7 linked regions of the Homo sapiens genome follow. The gene in region 5 interacts genetically with the main gene of each other region. Each region holds a gene or a part of one and is shown on either strand. Other genes may lie near its edges.

What was found.
Region 1: changes in MAX (region 5) and SDHC together harm fitness less than expected from each alone (positive genetic interaction), as found in Homo sapiens cells (one large-scale study listed by BioGRID).
Region 2: changes in MAX (region 5) and SSBP1 together harm fitness more than expected from each alone (negative genetic interaction), as found in Homo sapiens cells (one large-scale study listed by BioGRID).
Region 3: changes in MAX (region 5) and MED9 together harm fitness less than expected from each alone (positive genetic interaction), as found in Homo sapiens cells (one large-scale study listed by BioGRID).
Region 4: changes in MAX (region 5) and METAP2 together harm fitness less than expected from each alone (positive genetic interaction), as found in Homo sapiens cells (one large-scale study listed by BioGRID).
Region 6: changes in MAX (region 5) and CDK12 together harm fitness less than expected from each alone (positive genetic interaction), as found in Homo sapiens cells (one large-scale study listed by BioGRID).
Region 7: changes in MAX (region 5) and PSMD6 together harm fitness less than expected from each alone (positive genetic interaction), as found in Homo sapiens cells (one large-scale study listed by BioGRID).

Annotation. Positions count from the first base shown.
Region 1 is NC_000001.11:161,361,544-161,363,706, reverse strand, and holds the end of SDHC (succinate dehydrogenase cytochrome b560 subunit, mitochondrial isoform 1 precursor), read right to left. Parts: intron 1,379-2,163; coding exon 1,274-1,378; coding exon of another isoform or gene 1,167-1,273; 3' UTR 501-1,166; downstream 1-500. UniProt on the Homo sapiens protein: Membrane-anchoring subunit of succinate dehydrogenase (SDH) that is involved in complex II of the mitochondrial electron transport chain and is responsible for transferring electrons from succinate to ubiquinone (coenzyme Q).
Region 2 is NC_000007.14:141,736,881-141,741,157, reverse strand, and holds the start of SSBP1 (single-stranded DNA-binding protein, mitochondrial precursor), read right to left. Parts: upstream 2,801-4,277; 5' UTR 2,748-2,800; exon of another isoform or gene 2,565-2,747; intron 2,552-2,564; exon of another isoform or gene 2,160-2,551; intron 2,035-2,159; 5' UTR 1,992-2,034; coding exon 1,968-1,991; intron 1-1,967.
Region 3 is NC_000017.11:17,480,000-17,483,499, reverse strand, and holds part of MED9 (mediator of RNA polymerase II transcription subunit 9), read right to left. Parts: intron 1-3,500.
Region 4 is NC_000012.12:95,508,652-95,512,151, reverse strand, and holds part of METAP2 (methionine aminopeptidase 2), read right to left. Parts: intron 258-3,500; coding exon 154-257; intron 1-153. UniProt on the Homo sapiens protein: Cotranslationally removes the N-terminal methionine from nascent proteins. The N-terminal methionine is often cleaved when the second residue in the primary sequence is small and uncharged (Met-Ala-, Cys, Gly, Pro, Ser, Thr, or Val).
Region 5 is NC_000014.9:65,092,518-65,096,017, reverse strand, and holds part of MAX (protein max), read left to right. Parts: intron 1-1,706; exon of another isoform or gene 1,707-2,202; coding exon 2,203-2,310; exon of another isoform or gene 2,311-2,386; intron 2,387-3,500. UniProt on the Homo sapiens protein: Transcription regulator. Forms a sequence-specific DNA-binding protein complex with MYC or MAD which recognizes the core sequence 5'-CAC[GA]TG-3'. The MYC:MAX complex is a transcriptional activator, whereas the MAD:MAX complex is a repressor.
Region 6 is NC_000017.11:39,513,486-39,516,985, reverse strand, and holds part of CDK12 (cyclin-dependent kinase 12), read right to left. Parts: intron 1,256-3,500; coding exon 1,178-1,255; intron 1-1,177. UniProt on the Homo sapiens protein: Cyclin-dependent kinase that phosphorylates the C-terminal domain (CTD) of the large subunit of RNA polymerase II (POLR2A), thereby acting as a key regulator of transcription elongation.
Region 7 is NC_000003.12:64,016,995-64,020,494, reverse strand, and holds part of PSMD6 (26S proteasome non-ATPase regulatory subunit 6), read left to right. Parts: intron 1-1,053; coding exon 1,054-1,199; intron 1,200-1,457; coding exon 1,458-1,677; intron 1,678-1,787; coding exon 1,788-1,896; intron 1,897-3,500. UniProt on the Homo sapiens protein: Component of the 26S proteasome, a multiprotein complex involved in the ATP-dependent degradation of ubiquitinated proteins.

The sequences.
Region 1 (2,163 bases), on a different chromosome or scaffold from region 5:
TGGCCTATATGGATTTTAAAAGCAGCAAGTTTTCTCATTAAATTATACATTTTTGCCAGGTTTTCAACAATCCCTTCTTTTTTAAAAAAAAACTCTATGCTTCATTCACCCCAAGCCTATAACCTCAGGTCATCATCCCCTAGCTGTCACCAACACTGGTCCTCTGTGCCCCTCAATGAATCATAATTTGCTGAACTGTACCATGAAGCTTATAATCAGTCCTTAATGGGATTTTGGTGCCTATAACCCAAAAGCACTCTACATGCGTCACTTCTTTTCTTTTTCTCCTTCCTTCTCTGAGGCTTTTCTGTGATATTTAAATCTCTGGCTAAGTTCTATCTGATTCCCTGAAAACTTTTCCAATGATGAGATGTAGGAGAACTGTTTCCCTCCTGGTAAAGGTCAGATTGCGGGGAGAGGGAGGATGTAAATGCCTGAGACCCGAGGGAAGAGGAGGAAATTGGTTCCTTCCCAACAGCCATTTTCTTGGTTTCTCTAGATTTCAAGGAGAGTCAAAGATAAAATGAGTATTTAATTCAGTTTCAGAAAAAAAGGGTACATTACTTCGATGAGAAAGCATAAAATTAAGAGGCTTTTCTGGAAATCCAAGAAAAAGAAATAACCATTAATATGTTCAATGATAATTTTCTAGATCTTCCTCGTGTCCAAAGCTATATATTTTCTCCTCAAAAGCAGCTGCTCCAAGAACTAACTAGCCCTCTTTATCTCCCTCTAGCTGGGACAGACTAATTCCCCTCCACCCCCACCTCTCTTCTTTCAATAACACTGTGTAGGTGTTAATGGCCTGGGCTCTCACCAATGAAGAGAATTGTCCTTTAAGCCAGCAACCCACAGGCAGTGGCACCCAAAGCCTCACCAACCCACCCCCCAACCCGGCCCATCCCCAGGGCAGAAGCCACAGAGCTGGCATTGTTTCCACTGTCTCAGGAAGAAGGAGCCAAAAGCTGACCCTCAGCACAAATCAAAGCCCAATATGGAGAGAGAATAACTGCTTCTAGGCCGAGAGTAGGCAAGCTGTGGGCAAAAAAGGGGAGTTTTTGCAGCCACCTCATCTTTAGAAACAAGGGGAAAACTAGACCCTTTTCCACTATTATGGTCTACCAGGTACTCTACTGCTCCAAGGAGATCTGAAAATACAAAAGGATCTAAACAAATAAGGAGAACTTTTCCCAGGCTGGAGATAAGAATGACAAACAGAAAGATGGGTGAATGTAATAATGTGTAGGAAGATGATGCTGGGAGCCTCCTTTCTTCACATGGCTGCCAGCCCCATAGAGGACAACACAGTAAGAACCAGGACAACCACTCCAGACTGGTATAGCTGGGGAATCTTCAGGCCTTTTCCTAGGTCCCACATCTGTGGACAAAGCAAAAAAAAAAAAAAGGAATTTCAGTAAATAGGACATTAACAGTTCCTGTCTCAGAAAGTAATTCTACCTAAAGGAATAGATATCTCCTCTCAGCATGATTCTAGAGAAAAGCGCTTCTACCCTTATGCCCCACCTTTACCCTTCTCAAAACCCACAGTATGGAACCTATTATCCACTTATTCCAATGACAGAAAATCAGGTTCTATTGTGTGGTGATGGTAGGAGGAATGTTCTCTAGAATGCCACAGGCCCCATACGGTATACAAAAGCTTCCAGAATGAATAGATACAACTTTTCCTCAGGACCACACATCTAGATTAATGTTTCTCAAGGTGTATTCTTCCAAACACTTGCTCTCAGAATGTTGAAAGCCATTGTATGGGCCAAAAAAAAAAAAGTTCTGTGGTCATACAAAGTTCATAAACATTTAACTGCAAGACTTTCTAAACAGTTTTTTTTTTTTTTTTTTTTTTGAGACGGACTCTCACTCTGTCGCCCAGGCTGGAGTGCAGTGGCATGATCTCAGCTCACTGCAAGCTCCACCTCCCAGGTTCATGCCATTCTCTTGCCTCAGCCTCCCAAGTAGCTGGGACTAGAGGCACACGCCACCACGCCTGGCTAATTTTGTTTTTGTATTTTTAGTAGAGATGGGGTTTCATCGAGTTAGCCAGGATGGTCTTGATCTCCTGATCTCGTGATCTGCCCGCCTTGTCCTCCCAGAATGCTGGGATTACAGGCGTGAGCCACTGCGCCCAGCCTCTTACAGTTTACT
Region 2 (4,277 bases), on a different chromosome or scaffold from region 5:
CGGCACCCCCCTCCTCCATGGAAAAATTGTCTTCCATGAAACCAGTTATCAGTGCCAAAAAGGTTGGGGTCTGCTGGTTTAGAGAACGAGAGATAGGTTACATTCCAACAAAACAATACATTCTAAAACTAATCACATGAATGACTTTCTGACACAGCAACAGGAACATATTCCAAAGTCAGATTCCCTGTGTCTATGAAACTGCCTTCCCCTGGTTGCTCCTTCAGACCTTAAAAGGAATTAGGATACCTAATATGACTAATCTAAAGTGTTTCATTTTAAAATAAGCAAAAATTATGATACATAATACCTACTTCACAAGGCTATTGCAAAAATTAAACAGCTTCAGTAGTGAGCTTAGCCTAATACAGTTTTTATAAATATTTCATAGGAAATTTCCTGTTTTTAGTGCATCAAAAAAGGTCTAATAAATTTGGTTCTTTGATTAAACACAAAGACTCGACTGTCCAAGTCAAAGTCACATCACTGTCAGCAAAGGTAGTCACTACCACATAATAGCAGCAATCATTACTGAATATCAGCTAAGGGATTTATCTATTATCAATTCTAAAACTAAATCTACAAGTTATGTAAAATTATTCCCATTTAGGGCTGAGAAAACACCTCAGAGAGACTGCATCACCTGCCCAAGCTCCTGCAGGAAGTATGTGGCAAGTGATCTCAAGGACCCAGGGCCCTTGACACCAATGCTACTGCTTTCCCGAAGCCCTCTGCTGCCTCCTTAATTTCAAGAGCTCCTGTAAAGATGGGAGTACACATCACTGAATTCAGAGCTCAGAGAGCTAGCCATTCTATCAGAGAAACATTTTTGAAGTGGCAGTACTGTTAATATAAAAAGCAGAAGTCCACCAATCAAATAAACACCAATCCCCAGGGTGCTGTTGGCTATCTAATCCTATCACTAAACTTAGGAGCAGAGGGCAGATAAGAAAATAAAGATATGAGTACAACATACTATAGAATCAAACTGCTAATGAGAACCTGTGTCATGATTCTGGAAATGTCATTTGAGTGCTCAGACAAGCTAGACCTCATAAATCTTACACAGAGATTTATAATAACAATGTCTCATTTGGGGCACACAAAAATCTACTGGAGAAGATTAGGAAAGGATTATTTAACTTGGATAATTTTTTAAATTAAACTTTTAACTCTTATTTAAAGACATTTTAATACTGTAACGTTAGTGTTAAGAAGCAATAACTTTTTCATGTTTCACATTTCAATACAGAAAAAAATAGATTAAAGATACATACAGGTTAAAGTGGGGATCCAAGAATATAGGATTAAGGTGGGGAAAATGACAGAGTCATGGAGGAACTGGTTCTTCATTGGTCTTCACAGGAGGATGGGGAGTAGGAGAGCCAAAGAAGAATCTACAGGAGCTGGTGCCCGAATGTGGTAAGTGAGGAAAAATGGTAGTCTAAGCTGGCTCAAGGTGGGCTAGTGTCTGGAAAAGTGAGGACCCATACTAAGTGGAATGAGAAGGCATTTTCTACATAGTGAAATCTCTGGTGACCACTGAGACTTGAGATGCTCTCTTCAGTGTGGAAAGATGGGGGAAGAGGAACGTTTAGCAACACAGGAGGTAGATGGTCAAAAAAGCAACTACATGCCTTAAGAAAAAAGTTGGAACAATGATTCCTACAGTCTTTAGGTCACTAAAGACCTTTAATGTCCTCTCACTGGTTAAATTCAAGCAACACACACACATTTTAAAAATTAATGATTCCTATTACGTGTGAATAAACCTGAACTTTTTTTTTGTTTTAGTGAACATAATTTACACTGGCAAAATCGTCCCCAATCCTCCATATCAAATGAGTATAGAGGTGGGTGGGTGAGCTCAAAGGTCTTTTGCCCCTGTAGTTAAAAGCCTAAAGAAGTCTTCTGATCACTGTGGCTGATAGTAATACATCTCAGTATTAATACAGACAAGTGACTACCTGTAATACAGGTCTTCGAAACATGGCTTCTATTTTCTTTTCTTACAGTCTAATCTTTAGGCTTTTCCTGAAGGAAAAAAACAAAATAAGAAAAAAACATTACCTCTTATGGCAAAAGTACAACTCACCAGTCCTAAATTCCTAACTATATTCATAATTTTTATGCACTCCAATTTTGTGACCACAACGTACCAACATTCCTGCACATCTGATGAGGATTCCTTCCTCCCTCCCAAATAAACTCACACCTGTATGTCTTTTTGGTCCCAAATAACTTCCTCTTCCTCCAACCCATCGACAAAATTTTGATTCTGAGTTAATCCCACTTCCAATCCACTGTCTTCTCAAATTTCATTACTATGCAAGCTCCCTTAGAGCAGAGATTTGTATCTGCTTTATTCACTGCCATTTTCTAAACTTCTAAAAAAGTTCTTAATGCATAGTAAGGCCTCCATAAATATTAGCATCACCAAGGGACTTATATCTGAAACCTGTTACTGAAAAATTACTGCCTTCATCTCCGTTAACAAAGACCAAGCAGCGTAGAGACCCCCGGGCTAGCCAGCCACACCATAGGGAGAGGTGGACACCCTTTACCGAAGATGGCGCCACCACCTGAAAACCGAGGAGAACTGGAAGGAAATCACGCGGTCCTCCGCACGACTGATGAAAGGGCCAGACACCTACACAGAAACACCTCCCGACCCACGCAGGATCACGCGCAGCCAAAACACACGACTCCAGCACTTCCTTCGCGCTGGCTATCCCTTCCTCCCTCACCTGACGATCTAACCCGAGCAGCCCAGCCACGCAGGGGATCACTTCCGGCGCACAGGGAACGCAAAGCTCGCCAGAGGAAAAAGGAAACAGAAACTCCGCAACTTGCGCCTTGGAAATACTGCCGGCTAGCGCTGCGGGAAACGGCTCCCCTTAACTCTGAAGTTCCGCGATCTTCTCTTTGTGCGCGGGCGGATGGATCAACGCCGCCAAGTGGTGAGTTTGGAAGGTTTCAAGTTTAGAAGGTTTCAAGTTTAGAAGGTTTCAAGTTTGGAAAGAAATGAAATTATGTGATGAGGTTTCTAACTGGGCCCAGGAGGGGGCGAGGTAGGCAAAACAGAGACTAGCTCTGCCTGGAGGGAAAAAAAAGCAACATTTGTGACCAGCCTAGGCGACATAGTGAGACCTGTCTCTACAAAAAATATATAATTAGCTGGGCGTGGTGGCGCGCGCCTGTGGTCCAAGCTTCTCCGGAGGCTGAGGTCGGGGGATCGCCTGAGCCCTGGAGGTCGTTGCTGCATTGAGCCGTGAACGCACCACTGCATTCCAGCCTGGGCAACAGAGCGAACTCTATCTCAAAACAAAACAAAACAAAACAAGAAAAAGAAAAAAAGAAGAAAATTAAAAAAAAAAAGAAAGAAAAAGAACGTCCCAGGTCTGTTGAAGCACTAAGAAAAGCAGAAAAAGAAAGGGGAGCCAGGGAAGGGCTGGCAGGCTGTGCAATTTAAGGGAGCACCAGAAAAACTGGCAATCAAATAATATATTAATGTAATATTTTAAAAAGTAAAAATTAATGCAGGAAATCCGGGAGGAACAAAATAAGAGTCATGTGTACCTTAACAACAGGGTAAGGTCTGAGGATTGCGTCATTAGGCGATTTTGTTGCTGTACGAACACCACAGAATGTACTTTGACGACCTAGATGGTGGAGCCTGGACACACCTCGGCTCTGTGGTGTGGCCTGCTGCTTCCAGGCTGCAAACCTGACAGCATGGGGCTGTACTGAATACCGCAGACCATTGTAATTCATGGTAAGTATCTGTGTGTCTAAACATATGTAAACATGGAAAAGGTACAGTACAAATGCGGTATAAAAGATAAAAATGGCACACCTGTATGGGGCGCTTACCATGAATGGAGCTTGCGGAACTGGAAGTTGCTGTGGGTGAGTAAATGAGTGAGTGGTGGCCCAACATGAAGGTCTAGGACATTATTGTACCCACTAAACACTTCATAAACACTGTACACTTAGGCTACACTCAGTTTATAAAAAATACTTTTCTTCCTTTAATAAACTTTCACTCACTATAACTTTATAAATCTTCCAAATTTTTTTACGTTTTAACTGTTTTGTAATAACAATTAGCTTAAAACACACACTGTACCACTGTACAAAAATATTTTTCTTATATCCTTATTCTACAAGCTTTTTTCTACCTTTGCTTTTTTTCTTTTTTTTTTTAACTTTTTAGCCATTTTTTAAAAAAACTAAGACATAAACACACACATTAGCCTAGGCCTACACAGGGTCAT
Region 3 (3,500 bases), on a different chromosome or scaffold from region 5:
GTACAGGAGAGGCTCTGGTTCACAGGGCTCTGTGCAGCATTTCTGTGGGCACTTCTAGTGGAGGGGCTGGAGGGTCTGCCAGCCTGGAGGACTCCGCCCACCCAACAGCACCTGCAGCAAGAGGACCCTCTGTGGGCTTTGTGTTGGGTTATTCAGGCAGACAATCTGAAAATGGTCTGCAGAGATCCCTGAGTAAAGGCCTAAGTTTGGGCTCAATTTGAGAAGAATGGAGAACAAAGAAAAATTAGCCAAATAACATTCACAAGATAAAATAAGCATAAAGGCAAAGAGACTAATTAAATGCTGATTATAATACTCAAAAGCGAGGCTCAACGACCTGGCCAATGAGTAGTATCAACAGGCTTGGAAGTAAAGAAGCAGATTAAAGACGAAATGTTCCATTAACAAAAGCATCATGATCTAGCATCAGGCAGGCTGCTAGAAAACTCCACGGGAAAGGAAGGGCCAGGGAAATACTGACAAGAAAGAGGAAGGGTGAAAAATTAACCTTAAAAGATAATTAAATGTACCATGAAGATTTAAGAACTAAAATAGTTTGGTGCTGGAGAAGGAGAGAATGTCCATAAGTAGATCAGAAAACATGTGGGAATTCAGTGCATGGTAAAGGTGGCACTGCAAGCAGGGAAAATAACAAATATTCAAAAACAGCAGTGGGAAGATGTGGCTAACCGAGGCCCCCTTATTCTTCCCACCAAAATAAATTCCAGGAGCCTCAAAGAATTACAAGTAAAAAATGGAACCATGAAAGTTCTAGAAAAAAGAGATCAATACCTATAATTTTAGAGTGGGAAAGCCTTTCTAAGTAGGACCAAAACTCAGAAGCCATAAGGGAAAGGCCTAACAAATCTGACTACATGAAATTATATGCATCTGAATGAAAAACAAATAGAAAAACCATGACTATGAACAAAGTCAAAAGAAAAGCAACAACCTGGAGGAAGTATTTACAGTACATTTGACACACATTATTTCCTTTCTGTACATAAAAAAATCTAACAGAGAAATGGACAGTTTATAGGGAAAAATAAAAGTGACATATAAAATCGCCTATGAAGGGATGCTTTACCTAACTTAATGAAAGATCAATATATCATTTCTGACCTATGAGATTTGCCAAAGTTAAAAGTTTAATGGTGATGGCAGGTGATGGGGAAAGACACAAAAACTGTTGGTGGAAGCATAGATCAGGGCATTCTTTGCTCATAGTGACCCAAACAGATTCACATATCCCATTGCTAGAAATTTACCCCCACAGAGACTACCAAGAGTTCACCAAGATAGCATGGGCAAAGATGCTTGCTGCAGTGCTGATTCCAACAGCAAAATGCAGAAACAATGACGGTGTCCTTGAGCAAGAAACTGTTTACATAAACGACAGCACGTTCATAAAGTGGAATATTACACAGCTTTGCAAGGGAGCTGGGAGGAGTGAAGGGAGAGGCCCTGTTTCCATTTCATATCCATGGGTACTTGTAGAATCCGTCTACAACTTTAATTTTTGTTTAATGCTTTCTGGGTGGCAGATTTATAGGCCATTTTAGGTTAACTGAAGCAGTCTAGTCTACAAGGACTGAATTTTGGAAAAGAGTTAGCTAAAAAGACGTAGTGCTCTAAATTTAGCATAACTATCACTATAAAAAATGTTTGTACCCTATGCCCCAGCAATTCTACTGCTGGGATTTATCTGATCATAAACTTACTCCTACACAAAGATGCTAACCCCAGCACTGTGCTGGTAATAGCAAGAATAAGAAAAACAGCTAGAAGACCATCAACAGAAAACCAGTTCCATCAGTTATGCTGCATCCACAAGATGCAATTTTCTGCAGCTGCCTTAATGAGGTAGATCTTTATGTGCAGTATGGAAAGGTGGCCAAAAGAGACTAATCAGTGAAAAAAGTCAAGTACGACGTGATCTCAATTTGTATAAATTTTTGAAATGACATTCATATGTAATTCCCAGAAGGAACTTAGGAAAGTATTAACAGCAGTTACTACAGGTGAGGGGACTTGGGGGAAGGAACACATTTTCCATTTTACGTTTCTCTGTACTTCTAAACTTGCAGTTGTTACTTTTATTAAATAATTTTTCAAAAACTCTGAATTCTTTATGAGAACAAGAAAGGCTAAATTCACTACTTCAGATTTTACCTCCTTACTCACCCCTGTGCAAGAAGTAAACAAAGAATAAAAGGATCATTGGGGAAGTTATAGGAAAGGAAGGGACCCAGGGCCAGAGAGCGCCACCTGGGTGGACCGGACATGGTCCCAGCCCTCATCTCCACCCGCCAGTACTGTGTCTTGACTGGCTTCCAGCCTGACAGTTTCACTAGCTCCCCATCCCTCAGAAGACACCTGCACTCTGTTTCCTGGCTCTTCCCTCCTCCCCAGCCACCTCTTCCTGCCTTGGATGTATGCTCAACACCACCAAGCTAGAAGCTGACTCCCATGAGTAGATGCTATTTCTTGGCTTCGTGTCCTTACATGTTTTTCCTATACCAACATTCCTCCTGCCTCCCTTTCCTAATTGAAGACTCATTGTTGGCATCACTCTTACCAAGCCTTCTGACTCCCCCAGGCTTCACGAGGTCTCCTCTCCCTTCCTCCTCTGCCCTTATTCCTCCCTCATTTGCCTATAAACTCAAAGACACGCCTATACTGAAGGTTTGCAGGTTGGATCCTAGCCTCTTCTCATGTTTACAGCTGCAGAACCACTCCATTCCTTTGTGGCTACTGTTTCCTCCACGTGGCTTTTTCTGCTCTTCTGTCTTGTCTTTCTCTTTTTTCCTCTCTCTCTCTGTCTCCTCTCTTTCTTTCTTTCTTCTTTGAGACAGAGTCTATGTCACCCAGGCTGAAGTGTAGCAGTGCGATCATGGCTCACCGTAGCCTCAGCTCCCTGGGTTCAAGCTATCCTCCCATCTCAGCCTGCCCAGGTGCTGGGCTTGCAGACAGACATGAGGCACCGCGCCTGACCCGTGTCTTTCTTACCAGGGGGTTTCTTCCTATGCTTAGTGACCTTGGCCATCCACTCATATATTTAAGAATAAAACACTAAAAGGCTTAGTGGAAGCTCTGCAAATGAGTGATGCTTGTTCATTTTCTCAGAATTAATTGACTAGGCTTTTTTTTTTTCCAATGTCTTTTCTCTTAATTGGTCACGCACCATAGAGAGGGCACTTCCACTCTCTTTGGCTGCCAATCTAGAAGCCAGGTGGGGGAAGGCTCGGGTGGTGTCTCTCTTCAGACTGTGAACTTTCTCTTAATCCCTCTTTTCAGTATGGCTCCCCCTACCTACCCCTGCAGTGTGCCTGGTGTCCCACAGTCAAGGTACTCTCTGGCTTATTCCTTCCTAAGAATAAATCTCGGGAGAGTAACCTTTTAACCATCTGCCAAGTTGGAAGAAGGGTAGTCACCCGGCCGCTTGGAGGGGATGGGAGGTGGGACAGGACTGTGGGGACCTGCTTCTTAAACAGACTTCC
Region 4 (3,500 bases), on a different chromosome or scaffold from region 5:
TTGCAAATTCAAATGGCCCAATTCCTGGCAGGGTGAATATGGATGATAAGCAGCTAATTCTGGTCAGTATAACCATATATTTAACTACCATGACCTTCTGCTTGGAAGAAAAAAATGTCTTCCATGGAAGTAAAATGTTAGTGACACACATACCTCCATTCTTGTTGCCTCCCCTCCTTTCACAATCGGCACTGTTTTTCCAGCATGTATTCTATATTGCCCAATTGAATGTCCATTTAGATTACGGATTGGTTTCACTGTTATAAAAAATAGGGAAATAAAAGTCATTCAGGATCTCAAGAAGCAAAAACAGATCTCTTACATTTTGGTACAGAGTTCAAGCATTTATTCAAAAACCAGGTATGGCTTTACTAAATAACCTTACATTAAGGTAGTTTAATATAAACTGGAATCTAGTGGAATATAAAAAGTAGTTGCAGTGTTATTAATACTAGAAGTAGGCCAGGTGCAGTGGCTCATGCCTGTAATCCCAGCACTCTGGGAGGCCGAGGCAAGCGGATCACCTGAGGTCAGGAGTTCGAGACCAGCCTGACCAACATGGCGAAACCCTGTCTCTACTACAAATACAAAAATTCGCTGGGTGTGGTGGTGGGGGCCTGTAATTCCAGCTACTCAGGAGGCTGAGGCAGGAGAATCACTTGAACCCGGGAAGCGGAGGTTGCCGTGAGCCAAGATCACATCACTGCACTTCAGCCTGGGCGAAAGCAACTCCGTCTCAAAAAAAAAAAAAAAAAAAAAAAACGGTGCTAGAAGGGAGGATGGAAGAAAGAAATACAGGATTAAGGGCACAAGGGAGGTCATCTAAGGAGGTATAAGGAGGTACTGTTAACAACAAATAAAATGCCATGTACACAAATTATTAGAAACATAAAAAATACATATTTGTATTGTTACAGACCAAAAGATAATGTGAAAGATACTGTTAATATGACAGTATTATAAAACTTTATATCAACATTTCAAATGTTCAAAAAGAAAACCTATGTGGCTGAGACACAGTAATTAAGAAATAGAAGTAAGAAAGAAGAAAGAAAATCTAAACATCCCACTGTCATGACAGCAAGGACAGAATAGACAAATTGTGGCATATTCACGAGGGAATAACATTCAACAATCAAAACAAAAAGCTAGGAATACATTTAACAACTGGAATAAAACGTCTAGCTTTTTTATTCCAGTTGTTTTAAAACTGACAAAATGAGCAGAAAAAGGCACAATTACATATATACTGTACAATTCCACATATATATAATAGTTCAAAATTAGGCAATAAAACTAGTTTAGGGATGCATAATTAGGTAGTAAAGACATAAAGAAAAGCAAATGAAAATCCTTTCATACTTGCAGTGCTGATAAGCTAAATATATTTTAAAATTCAGACATCATTACTATTTCTCTAAGACCTGGCAAACTGACCCCACAAGCCAAGATGGTGGCTCACTAGAGGCAGGCTGCTGTAATTGGAAAGCAGTGTATTGCTGCTATGGTTTGAATGTATCCCCCAAAGGTCATGTATTGGGAATTTCATCCCCAGTGTGATGGTGTTGGGAGGTGGGACCTAACAGGAGGAGTTTGGGCCATGGAGGCACCACTCTCATCAATGAATTCAAGCCATTATCTCAGGAGTGGGTTCCCTGTAAAGGACAAGTTTGACCATTTCTTGCTCTCTCTCTCAAACTTCTCATTGCCCTTCTGCCTAATGCCATAGGATGATGCAGCAAGAAGACCTTCACCAGATGCCAGTCCCTCAATCTTCCCAGCCTCCAACACTGTGAGAAATCAATTTCTGTTCTTTATAAATTACCTAGTCTCAGGTATTCTGCTGTAGCAGCACAAAACGGACTAAGAAAATGAGACTGAGCGTCTTCTGGAATACTGGCAATATTCAATTTCTTGAGGAGTGAGGTTACGTAGCTTCTGCAATTGAGAAGCTGAGTTTTTATGCTTTGTGCATTTTGTGTTAATATTTCAAATTTTAAAAAAGGGCTAAAAACGGCCAGGTGCAGTGGCTCACGCCTGTAATCCCAACACTCTGGGAGGCCAAGGCAGGTGGATGACTTGAGGTCAGGAGTTCAAGACCAGTCTGGCCAACACAGTGAAACCCCATCTCTACTAAAAATATAAAAATTAGCTGGGCGTGGTGACACACCTGTAGTCCCAGCTATTTGGGAGGCTGAGGCAGGAGAGTCACTTGAACCCGGGAGGCAGAGACTGCAGTGAAATGAAACTGCACCACTGTACTCCAGTCTGGGCGACAGAGTCTCAAAAAAAAAAAAAAAAAAAGGTTGGGGGGGAGGTCTTAAAAAAATTTAACTCTATAACTCTAGAATCCTCAGTATGAGCTACCTTTCTTCTAGAGCAGAGTTAAGTAGTCTGAAGCAATGAACAAGTATGTTACAAACTTAGTGGGACAGCAAGAAAAACAAATCAATTCACTCTTCACAACAACCTTCTTATATAAATGTGTCAAAGTTGTCAGACTCAAACAGAGCTAGGGAAAGCCATGAAGAGAGGGTTCTCATGCTTATACACCTGATAATGAAAATGACTATGAAAACCATAACCTTGCACAAAGCCCACTGCAACCTTACACAAAAAAATACTTCTGCAAGGACATCTGCCCAACAACTGCCTGCCCAACCTCCGACTGGCGTCACTTTTGTTATTAATCTTTGGAGCCAAGGATAATTATTTCAAAACAATTATGTCATCCTCATTTTCGTCTTCAAAAACCTCTGTCTTCCTTACCTCCCTGAATATGCACAAGTTTACTATGGCATTCCCACTGCAATGCTCTATTCCCAAACATCATTTTCTTTTAGAGAGCCTCTGTTTGTTATTTAGGTTGACAAGTAACAAGCTTATTTTAAAATTCAAACTTTGCAGACTGACCCTTACAAGCCAATCAATTTTTTTAAAGAAAGTTTCTTAGCCATACCAACCTAATATGTTAGTTACACAGAAAAATGAGGGTACAGGGGAATTCATTTTTTACTTATGCAGGTTGTAACAGCACAGGCTAATTCTGGGACCAGTAATTTGTTAACAATCACTTTTTAATTCTATTGCTTCCTGATCAAAGGAGATTAAGATACTCCTTTGATGGCCCGTTTGTGCTATGTGTTTTGATTTGTTCTGGAAAGTTCAACCCGGAATCCATTTCTTCATCTCCCTATTATCATGATTTTTCCACATCCTCTCTGCTTAAACTATAAAAATGGATTGTTGCCTTAAACTAAGAACACTGATCAATAAAATAACAGGGATCAAAAGAGGGGTACTGAAATAATGAAACCAAAAATGCTGCACTAGCTTAATGGAAGAGGTAAAAGGGTAGATATTAAAAATCCCGATGTTGCAGGCTGGAATTATTATGCAGTGACTAAAACATTAAGTCAAACTGTCACCTACCATACCTTGAAAGGCAGACCACATACCAAACAAGTTGTAGAATTAGGAGAAAATGAAAGGAAAAAGAG
Region 5 (3,500 bases):
AGAGACTTGTCCATTTGAGTCCTTTCAGAGCTCAGTGAATGGGAGGGGGTAGTGCATTGTGGGGATGATTTTGGTGTTAGATTATACTTAGCTCCACCCCTTTAGTGCAGGTCCACGTGAAACCAAGTGCAACTTCATTCTAGCTGTTTGAGATTTGCAGGGCTCTCCCAGAAAGAAAACAGACAATTAGAATTTTATTTGTATCAACAAGAGGGATTGTGGGTAATTCTGGTGCACAGCTCTTAGCTGGGAGGAGGGCCAAGAATCAGGGTGATTTAGTAGACAGGAGTATCTTGGGCTGCTCTGGAGACCAAAGATGGGCAATTAATTTGCATGTAAATAAACCACCTTAGGTAGTATATAGCAAACAGGAGCCGCAGACACATGCCAAATATTGTCTCTTGGCCTTTAAGCTCCTTAGGTATAGTCGCAGCCCAACTTATCTTTATGTAGATGATCAGAGGGAACAACAGTAAGTTCAAAAGGACTAGATACTTAAATAGGTTCAATTCTGTCGCACTATTTCATGCTACTGTTAGAAGGCATCTATAATTTTGCGCTAAAGTTGTATGATACAGAGTACCTACCTCTACCCTCAGGTTATGTGGTGTTCCAAACTTGACTGTCCTCTCAGCTTCATATTTCATGTCACTATAGTTCAGTAAACATTCATTTTACAGTGAATCCAGACTTAACAAGATTAGGACAACTTTAGAAGTGCTCCAGGCATCTGCCCCAAAAAGAGAGATATGCTATGGAGAACCATGGTTGTCATGGGAACCACATGTCCAGTTCAACAGAGCTGTAGGTGAGGTATTATGTTTAAGAGACCAGGAAGTAACTCAGATGACTACAGGTGCTCCCAGTCTCCTCTTCCTCTGTAATGACTGGGACTTTTAGGATTAAATAACAGGAGAATTTCAAGTCCTTTCGTTTTCACAACTCTTGATAGATTTTTGTCTGTACATCTTCTCTAGTACAAGGATTAATGTGAGGCAGCATTATTCTTGTGCTAAGCCAAGTTATTTACTCTTGTTCCATTTTTTGAATTTCTGGCCCTCTGTTTGTATAGATTTAAGCTACCTGAACTTCCCATGTACAGACTGGCTCTCTAGATTAGCTCAGTGCAACGTTGTGCATTCAAGGTGAATGTTCAGAGCATAATTTCCGTAATTCCTAGAGTGTAGGTGTGATGAAGTTCTTCTTGCTTTGGGTTGTTTGTGTTCCATTTGGAGGGGAGACCCCTCTGATGGGGACCTGCTGAAGTGCTCTTATCATGCTCTCCAGCGCTATCTCTTCTGCCTGAAGCCAGAGCATTTTGCCATTCCTGATTTGGTGTTGGCAGTTTTGGTCCATCTCCAGCTGACCGTTCTTTGTGATTCCAAGCAGGCTAAGGCTTTGACTTGGATATTTAGATACTGCCAGTTAGCCTGACCTGCCACAGGTACCTGAGAGAATTTATTCTGAGTATGTGGTGTCAGAAGTTGTGCCCTCTAAGAACTGCCTGTCAGGCACTGCCTGTGTGCAAGGAAGCCCTTGGCAGGATAGCACCTTGGATCTACTTTTAAAAAATAGGAACTCAGAATTCAGTTGTCATCTTATCAGCTCTGTCATAATGATCTCAGATTCATGCATCTAGGTTTTATAGAGGTTTTAGCTTCTGTTGTATGATTTGGTGAGAAGGTCTTAAACTAGTGCCTTTTAGTGGGCTTGGGACTCATGGTGATGGTTTCACATTAAAGAAGCACCAGTGACTTAACTCTTTCTTCCCCTGGACACCCATCTGGGGAATCTCTTACAGTGGAGGTGATCACATCTTAAGAAGGGGCCACTGGAGCTTTCTCTAGTCACTTCCTAACCACAGACTGGTGGCTCTTCTGTCACATAAGCAAGTTGGGGGGGACCACTGATGTTACAGGAGAGTCACACTTTGTCCCCCTGAATAACTTTTATTTTACTTATGCATGAGCTGGATGCATCGAGCTACTTTGGATGTTCCTGTCGCAAGCGTTGCTCACCCCTTTCTCCCCCTTTAGCAGAGCCTAATTCTGGAGACTCCTAACTGCCCACCTCGAGAAATCCTTCCCAGTCCACTCGCCAGGGACAGTGCTGACAGCGTGTACTTCCAGGCTGTACCCCACCCACCTTGTACCAAGCAAAAGGAGTGACATTCCTAATGTGTTCTTTCTCCCATTCTTCTAGGCTGACAAACGGGCTCATCATAATGCACTGGAACGAAAACGTAGGGACCACATCAAAGACAGCTTTCACAGTTTGCGGGACTCAGTCCCATCACTCCAAGGAGAGAAGGTGAGTTTCCTGAGAAAGCTGAGTAGCTGGCCACTACTAGCTTGGAACTTGTTGCAGAGCTTAGCAGAGCACTCACCTATTGGGAAGGAAATGTAGTCAGAGATATTCAGGTAGCATGGTTGCCTTATTTTTGACTGTTTGGAGGATCACTGCACACCTTACGTACTCCAGTTTATCCTTAACAAAATATGTCAGATATAATGGAGCTATTTGTGAGATAATGGTAGGAGTTATCTTTTAAAATTTGTATTATTTGTAATAAATTCAAGAAATTATAACTATACACTATAGTATAAAGAGTGGCCAAGAGTTCGTTTGGGATAACAGTAAAGATTCCAGAGGTCATTAATACCCTAGACCTCCATGAGAATTCCTTTCCTATGGTTCAAAGTTAATACTTTATTGTAAATGAGCACTTGCAGAAATGTGTGTAATGTATGTGAAAAACAACCTGGGCACCATTGATTTTCCAGCCCCAATAATTGTTATTTCCAAGGCGTATAAAGAGCATTTTAAGCTGTGGGACAAAAGACTTGAGTGAAGAGACATGTTCATGTGAAACAGAAAAAAAATAACCATTCTTCCCCACTCCCTTCTGGAACCTAGTGTTTTCCCTGGAGGGCTAGGCACCAGCTGTTTCTACATTTGAAAAACAAAATTAGAAGCTTTGAGTAAAAGCCTATGGGTTAGGGTCACTCCCTGGAATTTGGAGAAAACATCTGCATGGCTAGTTCCATCCTTGACAGAGAGTGTAGTTGTCTGTAGCAATTCATTGGAATAACTGGCAAGCTGGGAAGAGGACCTGTGTTTTTGCTTTAGTGATCCAGTGTTTTATAAAGAAGGAACTATTCTGTTAAGAACAATCTTTGCTTTTGGGTGCACTTTGATTTAGTTCTGTGGTGGGGGTCCTGGATTTGTTTGGTTATCCAAGATCAAATTTGGAACCCTTATGCTTTCATTTTTTATATTGTCACTCTGGTAAGTTATGGCCTCTATACTTTATCTAAGGTGTGGCTTTCCATGTGGCGTAAACATGGAGAAGTTCTGACCTTTATAAAGAACAAAACAGGCCATGTACATACCTGGTATTGCAAAACCAGAATTTGCCATGGGTTAAGCCTACTTAGTGTGGACTTGATTTAATGACCTTAAACCAAGGTACTTACCTGGAATAACAACCTTCCTGGGTA
Region 6 (3,500 bases), on a different chromosome or scaffold from region 5:
CACCTTTAAAAAATGTCTACATTGGCCGGGCACGGTGGCTCACGCCTGTAATCCCAGCACTTTGGGAGGCCGAGGTGGGCGGATCATGAGGTCAGGAGATCGAGACCATCCTGGCTAACATGGTGAAACCCCGTCTCTACTAAAAATACAAAAAAATGAGCCGCGTGTGGTGGTGGGCACCTGTAGTCCCAGCTACTCGGGAGGCTGAGGCAGGAGAATGGCTTGAACCTGGGAGGTGGAGCTTGCAGTGAGCCAAGATCACGCCACTGCACTCCAGCCTGGGTGACAGAGCAAGATTCCATCTCAAAAAAAAAAAAAAAAAAAAGTCTGCATTAGGCTGGTGTGGTGGCTCACGTGTGTAATCCCAGCACTTTGGGAGGTCAAGGTGGGAGGACTGTTTGAGCCCAGGAGTTCCAGCCCAGGCAACAAACATAATGAGACCCTATCTCTACAAAACAAATGAACGAAAAATAGCTGGGACTACAGGTGTAGTCCAAGCTACTCAGGAGGGTAAGGTGGGAGGATCACTTGAGTGCAGGAGTTTGAGGCTGCAGTGAACTATGATCACACCACTGCACTCCAGTCTAGGTGACAGAGCGAGACCCTGTCTAAAAAAAAAAATACAAAAAACATTAGCCTGCTATATTCTTCCCTTTAATTTTATTGAAAAAAACAAAACAAAAACAAACCCACCCAAATGCCAGCCCAATCCTGGGCTTTCCCCATATTTTCTATTATAGGTTGTATTTTATAACTATTTACATGCTATATACCTTACTAAACTCTGAATTCTTTGAAGGCGGGGACCTATTTTTTATCTCTGAATCCTAAAGTTTAATGTTAAAAGTAATCTGTTGTATAACAGGCTCAATAAATGTTTGCTGAATAAATTTAATCTCATCTGAGCTATGAATGGAAGAGCCATCCCCAAAATGGTATGCTTTTATATGAAGAGCTAATAAAAAATATGCAAAGTAAGATCTAAAAATTAGGTGAAATAAAACTTCTTTATATGTATAGCCTATGACAAAATATATGGTAAACCTGACTGAGTAAAGAGAAACTTACTTGGACATAAGAAACATAAACTCATTCAGAATGACTAGAAAGTGTTAGAAACTGGAGGATGAGAATACCTATCACACCTGGGCACTCAAGAGCACATGTACAGCTGTACCTGATCAGTTCTAGCTGAGCCAGTTCCAGATTGGCTTGAAAAATAGGCTTCTTTGTGAATAGTTCCCCAAGAATACATCTAGAAAAGGTAAAATTGAGAGGTCAGAAGAGAAATTCTTAGAGCCTATTTAAAGTGTCTCAAAAAATTTTTACATTATTGATATGTCGGATTGCAACCAAGATAAATAGCCCCAAATTTCAGTGTCTGAGTTTCCAAAGAGAAAATATTTCTTGCAGTGAAACAGACAGTATAAAGAATTTAAATTTGCCAGCAGATCAAACTTTTGCCACCTATTAAGGACACTCTATGATCAGAGAAAGGGAGTCAAGAGTCTTTTTCTATCATGCCATTGTAATTAAGGAAATAACTAAAGACAATTTTACAAGGTTGCTCAAAATTAAAGAACAATACTAACAAAAAATAAATAAACAAGGATGCTCTCTGCAGTTAGTTTCTATAAAGTTTGAATTCATTTTTGTCATTAATCTGCTCTGTAGAAGATGCACTATACTATAGCCTTCTTGGCACTGTATTTCAAATAAAATAATTTACTGTCATCAGCTAGGATCAGTTGGACTTTTTTTATTTTTATTTTTTGAGATAGAGTCTCACTCTGTCACCCAGGCTGGAGTGCAGTGGTGCTATCTCCACTCACTGCAACCTTTGCCTCCCAGGTTCAAGTGATTCTCTGCCTCAGCCTTCCAAGTAGCTGGGACTACAGGCATGCACCACCACACCCGGCTAATTTTTTTGTATTTTTAATAGAATCTAGTGAATCTAACATGAATAAATCTCAAATCATTTATGCTGATTAAAAGAGTGGGGGGAGTATATACTATATAATTCCATTTGTGTAAAATTCTAGAAATAGAAATTATAGTGACAGAATGCAGAACAGTGGTTTGCCTGGGAATGGGAGGGTACGGGTAGAGGAAAGGGATTACAAAAGGGCACAAGGAAACTGTGGTGGGTGATCATTATCTTGGCTGTGTTGATGGTTTTACTGGTGGATATGTTATGTCAAAACATATCAAAATATATGCAGTTTATTTTATACTTCAATAAAATAGGTTTAAATATTGAATGAATTTGATAAGGCTATACTAAAGTTTTCTGTACTATTCCTGTAACTTTTCCATACATTGAAATTATTTCAAAATAAAATAAAGGCTGAGCATGGCAGCTCATGTCTGTGATCCCAGCACTTTGGGAGGCCTAGGCAGGAGGATCACTTGAAGCCAGGAGTTCAAGACCAGCCTGGCAACATAGGAAGACCACATCTCAAAGATTACATGAATATCCCATACTTTTTGTTACGTGCCTGAAATTTTTCATTTTTTTAAAGTGGGGAAAGAAAAAAAAAGGTCGATGAATCTGTCTGACCTATGCTTTGAAATGAGACAAATACAAAACCAAATTTATACTTTTATTTTAAAATTCTTTAGTTTGACTTAATTTGAGAAAGCAAAACGAACCTAGCTTTTTAAGTAGCACTTTTCTGTTAGAATTTGGACCTTTAAACGAATTATGTTAAAACAACTTCAAAGACAAATTCTTACTTCCTATATTCTCTCAAACCCTATTCAGAGATGGAAAAGTGAAAATAAAATTTAGGCCAGGCTCAGTGGCTGATGCCTGTAATCCTGGCACTTGGTGAGGCCGAGGTGGGAAGATTGCTTGAGCCCAGGAGTTTGAGACCAGGCTGGGCAACGTAGTGAGATCCCAACTCTATAAAAAGAAAAAAAAAGTAAAATTTAATTCTGTTTTCAACATTAACTGCCACATCAAGTTCTAAGTGCAATGTTGTCGTCACAGCGGGTAAAATCAGAGACATTTAAAAAAGAAAAGAAGAAAAAAAAACCACTAGGTTTTCAGACTCCTGACATAATTTGCTGTACTAGTCTTTCTAGTTTCTCCTCGATTCTAATTTGCACACTGAACTGTCATACCAATTCTCTATAAAAAATCCCATAAAAATATCTTCAGAGAGACTACCATGAATCACCAAAGTAGTAAGTTCACATCAAAACTCAAACAAAATCTTAATTCAATGAGCCACTGGGCTTTGAAGAATGTCTAACTTTATGTAGTTTTAATTTCCAATTGTGTTTTTCTGTTTTCTTTTCTTTTGGTTTCCAGTCCTTTGGTGGGAAGACATCTTCATTATGTAATCAACACTTTGCTACTGCTCTGAGGTGGCAGGCTGCACAGACTGAAATAATAGTACCGAACAGAGCTATGAACTTTCCTCGTGCATCTTAATGGGGCGTTAACTTTAGAGCCTAGTTGTGACAATTTAAATGCTAATACTGTTAAAGCAAAT
Region 7 (3,500 bases), on a different chromosome or scaffold from region 5:
ATGAGAAACTTGAAACTTTTGATTCAGGTTTTGAAGAATTTCAACAAGGACATGCTTGAATCAGTATCAGGAAGTTGTAAAATGTTCTAATATTATATTTCCTCTGTATTTATTAAATACTCTTCCAAAACGAACAACTTTTCCCCTCCTATTTACTCTCGTTTTTTATATTTTATTTTATTTAGTATTACTAAATACTTAATGGACTTAGTGGGCTTTTATTATTCACTGTTACCACTGATGAGAGTCTTATTCTTTATGGTGCTAAGTTTGTTGCAAATTTGTTAGCAGAGGCTCCGTCAAGACACTTTGTCCTTTTGACATATCTCATTAGTCTTATTTTCTGATAAAACAAAATGTCACAGGTTCACCTGTTATTTTCACTCTAATAAACGTAGAATTATCTATTTCTCCTAGGATCCCTGGTTCCTTTTAGTGGGGGATAGTATTTAAAAACCAAGATCTTAGTGCTAGGTGTATCCATTGCTGTATTCCCAGTCCCTTATAAATTTGTGAAATATAACTAATAATTACATAAACCAGGCAGACACATACTGAAAACTACCAAGTGTGAACAAATTATTTTATTCATATTCAAAGCAAAGGAAACATTCCACAGTGCTTTGAGAGAAAATTATATATTTACAAATTTAGTCATATTCTAATAGCGACTAAGATACAATTTCCAAAACCCTTCAGATGATGTTATTTTGATGTAGTGTATTGTGATTATGAGAGAAAACATTGAATATATAGAACAGAGAAAAATACTTAACAATTGTGAATATATTTTTCTTAAATTGTTTTCCTGAATCTAAGTATATGCTTGGGCATTTCTTATGTATTTTTTAAACTTTATACAGGTAGAGAAAGTAGAATAATAAACCCTTGTGTACTTATCACCCAGCTTCAACAATTAACAGTTAATGGCCATCTTGTTGTACTTCTACTCCTACCTCTTCCCTCAACCTTTGAAGAAAATCCCAGACAGCTGATAGCTTTTTTTGGAAACTTGTAGCCTTTTCTCACCTATTGCCTTGGCTTTCTTGACAGGAGGGAGCTCTGACAGCCTTTCGCAAGACATATGACAAAACTGTGGCCCTGGGTCACCGATTGGATATTGTATTCTATCTCCTTAGGATTGGCTTATTTTATATGGATAATGATCTCATCACACGAAACACAGAAAAGGCCAAAAGGTACTTTCTAAGGGTGGGATTATATTTTCTCTAAATTATGATGCTACAAATGAGAAGCTGATATAAGAAACTGCCTGTTTTGTTTACAGCTAGTAAGTTTGGTCAAATAATTGATGTACTTATTTAGTAAAATAATTTAAATATCTCCTTTCGGTTCAAGTTGTTAAAAGTTGTTTTCTCATTTCAAATAACAGACAAGTTTTTAAAACGTGGCCTTGTCTGTTTCCAGACTATGATCTTACTGTTTTTATTTCATAGCTTAATAGAAGAAGGAGGAGACTGGGACAGGAGAAACCGCCTAAAAGTGTATCAGGGTCTTTATTGTGTGGCTATTCGTGATTTCAAACAGGCAGCTGAACTCTTCCTTGACACTGTTTCAACATTTACATCCTATGAACTCATGGATTATAAAACATTTGTGACTTATACTGTCTATGTCAGTATGATTGCCTTAGAAAGACCAGATCTCAGGGAAAAGGTAATGACCAAACTTTAATACTCAAATTTAAAGACTTGTTTTTTTTGTTTAAATACACAAATCATTAAAATGTACATTTTTTTTGTATATATGTTTTTTAAAATACCTAGGTCATTAAAGGAGCAGAGATTCTTGAAGTGTTGCACAGTCTTCCAGCAGTTCGGCAGTATCTGTTTTCACTCTATGAATGCCGTTACTCTGTTTTCTTCCAATCATTAGGTAAGGATAGGGTTGATATTTTTGATTATCTGTCTTCATCTTACTCCTGATCCTATGTGCAAATAACCTAAGACGATTTTTCACCTATCTGAGAAATGTAGTGTGTAGGTAGCTGCATGTCTTTGATCAGTATTCCTAATGTGCCCAGTTTTGTTTAGAAGAAGGGTCATCAGATTGTGGCCTGCTGTATGGCCCAGGAGGTAAGAATGATTTTTACATTTTTAAAGTGTTGTTTAAAAAAGGAGGATGTGACGGAGAGCTATGTAGCTTGCAAAGCCTAAAAATACTTACCCTCTGGCCCTTTGCTGAGGGTATTTGCCAGACCCCTGGTTAAGAGTCTTAATGGGGTATAAGGCAAAAGTGAGCAAATGGTTATTAAGTATTGAGCTTCATGGGGACAGAAGTGAGGGAATTCTGAATGTGATTTGGGGTGGAGATTAATTGAACCTTGAATTCAGCAATGGGCTATTCTGTATCAATAGCTAAATAGCTAAATCTCTGTGCTGATTTGCAAATCATTTTCAAGGGCTATGGGTTAAGAAAATAATCTCTTGAACGTAATTGTATTCCTTCAAAGCTAGTTTGTAGTGATCCTGCCTTCACACATTTGCTTGTTTCTCCCTCTTGTCCCCATTCTTTCCTGGCTATTTGGTTTCCTAATAATGACCACAAACTATTAAGATGATAGAAGAATCAGCTTGCATCAAGTTGACCCAGGGGTCTTTCCCAAAACTTAAAATTTGACATTGATATATTTTGTTTATGCTGCAAATTTCAGAAGGTGTTTGGTTAAATAGATAGCTTTGGAGAAAAGTGGGAATGGACGGTTCCAAATGACGATTGTTAATGTTTTTGCAGTGGGTTTTGGCCCAGTGTTTTTGGATGCTTTCTCCATGCATATAAATTGGGCTGCTTTATGAGAATTCATAGTATTTACCTCAGGTAATGTAGGAACAGGTTTCCCGAGCATGATGAGTAACTCACTTGGCCTTATCTTCTCATACATACACACACAGTTATGTTGCTTTTGCATATAAGGTTATATTGTAGAATTGCTCTTTTCCCTTTTTTATGCTTGAGGTCTCCTGGTCATCACTCAACTCAAATATGGAGCCCTTCCCTGCTTCCCTCAGTCAGAACAAATCTTACTTCTCTGCATTCCTGGGATTCTTATTGTATGCTCCCTCCTTCAAAAAAATTGAGGGAGCCCTTCCTTGCTTCCCTCAGTCAGAACAAATCTCTTACTTCTCTGCATTCCTGGGGTTATTGTATGCCCCCTCCTTTAAAAAAACTGAGGTATAAATCACACACCATAAAATTACCTCAAGTGTACAATTCAGTGCTTTTTCATATATTGGCAAGGTTTTGCAAATATTAATAATTCCAGAACATCTTGATCACCCCAAAAGGAAACCGACACCCATTAGCAGTCACTCCCTATTACTCCTTTCCCCCAGCCCCTGGCAACCACTGATCTACTTTATGTCTGTACGAATTTGCCTATTCTGGACATATCATCTAAATGCAGTCATAAAATACGTGGCTTTTTGTGCCTGGCTTCTTTCACTTTATAATGTTCCCACATTCATCCATGTTGTAGCATG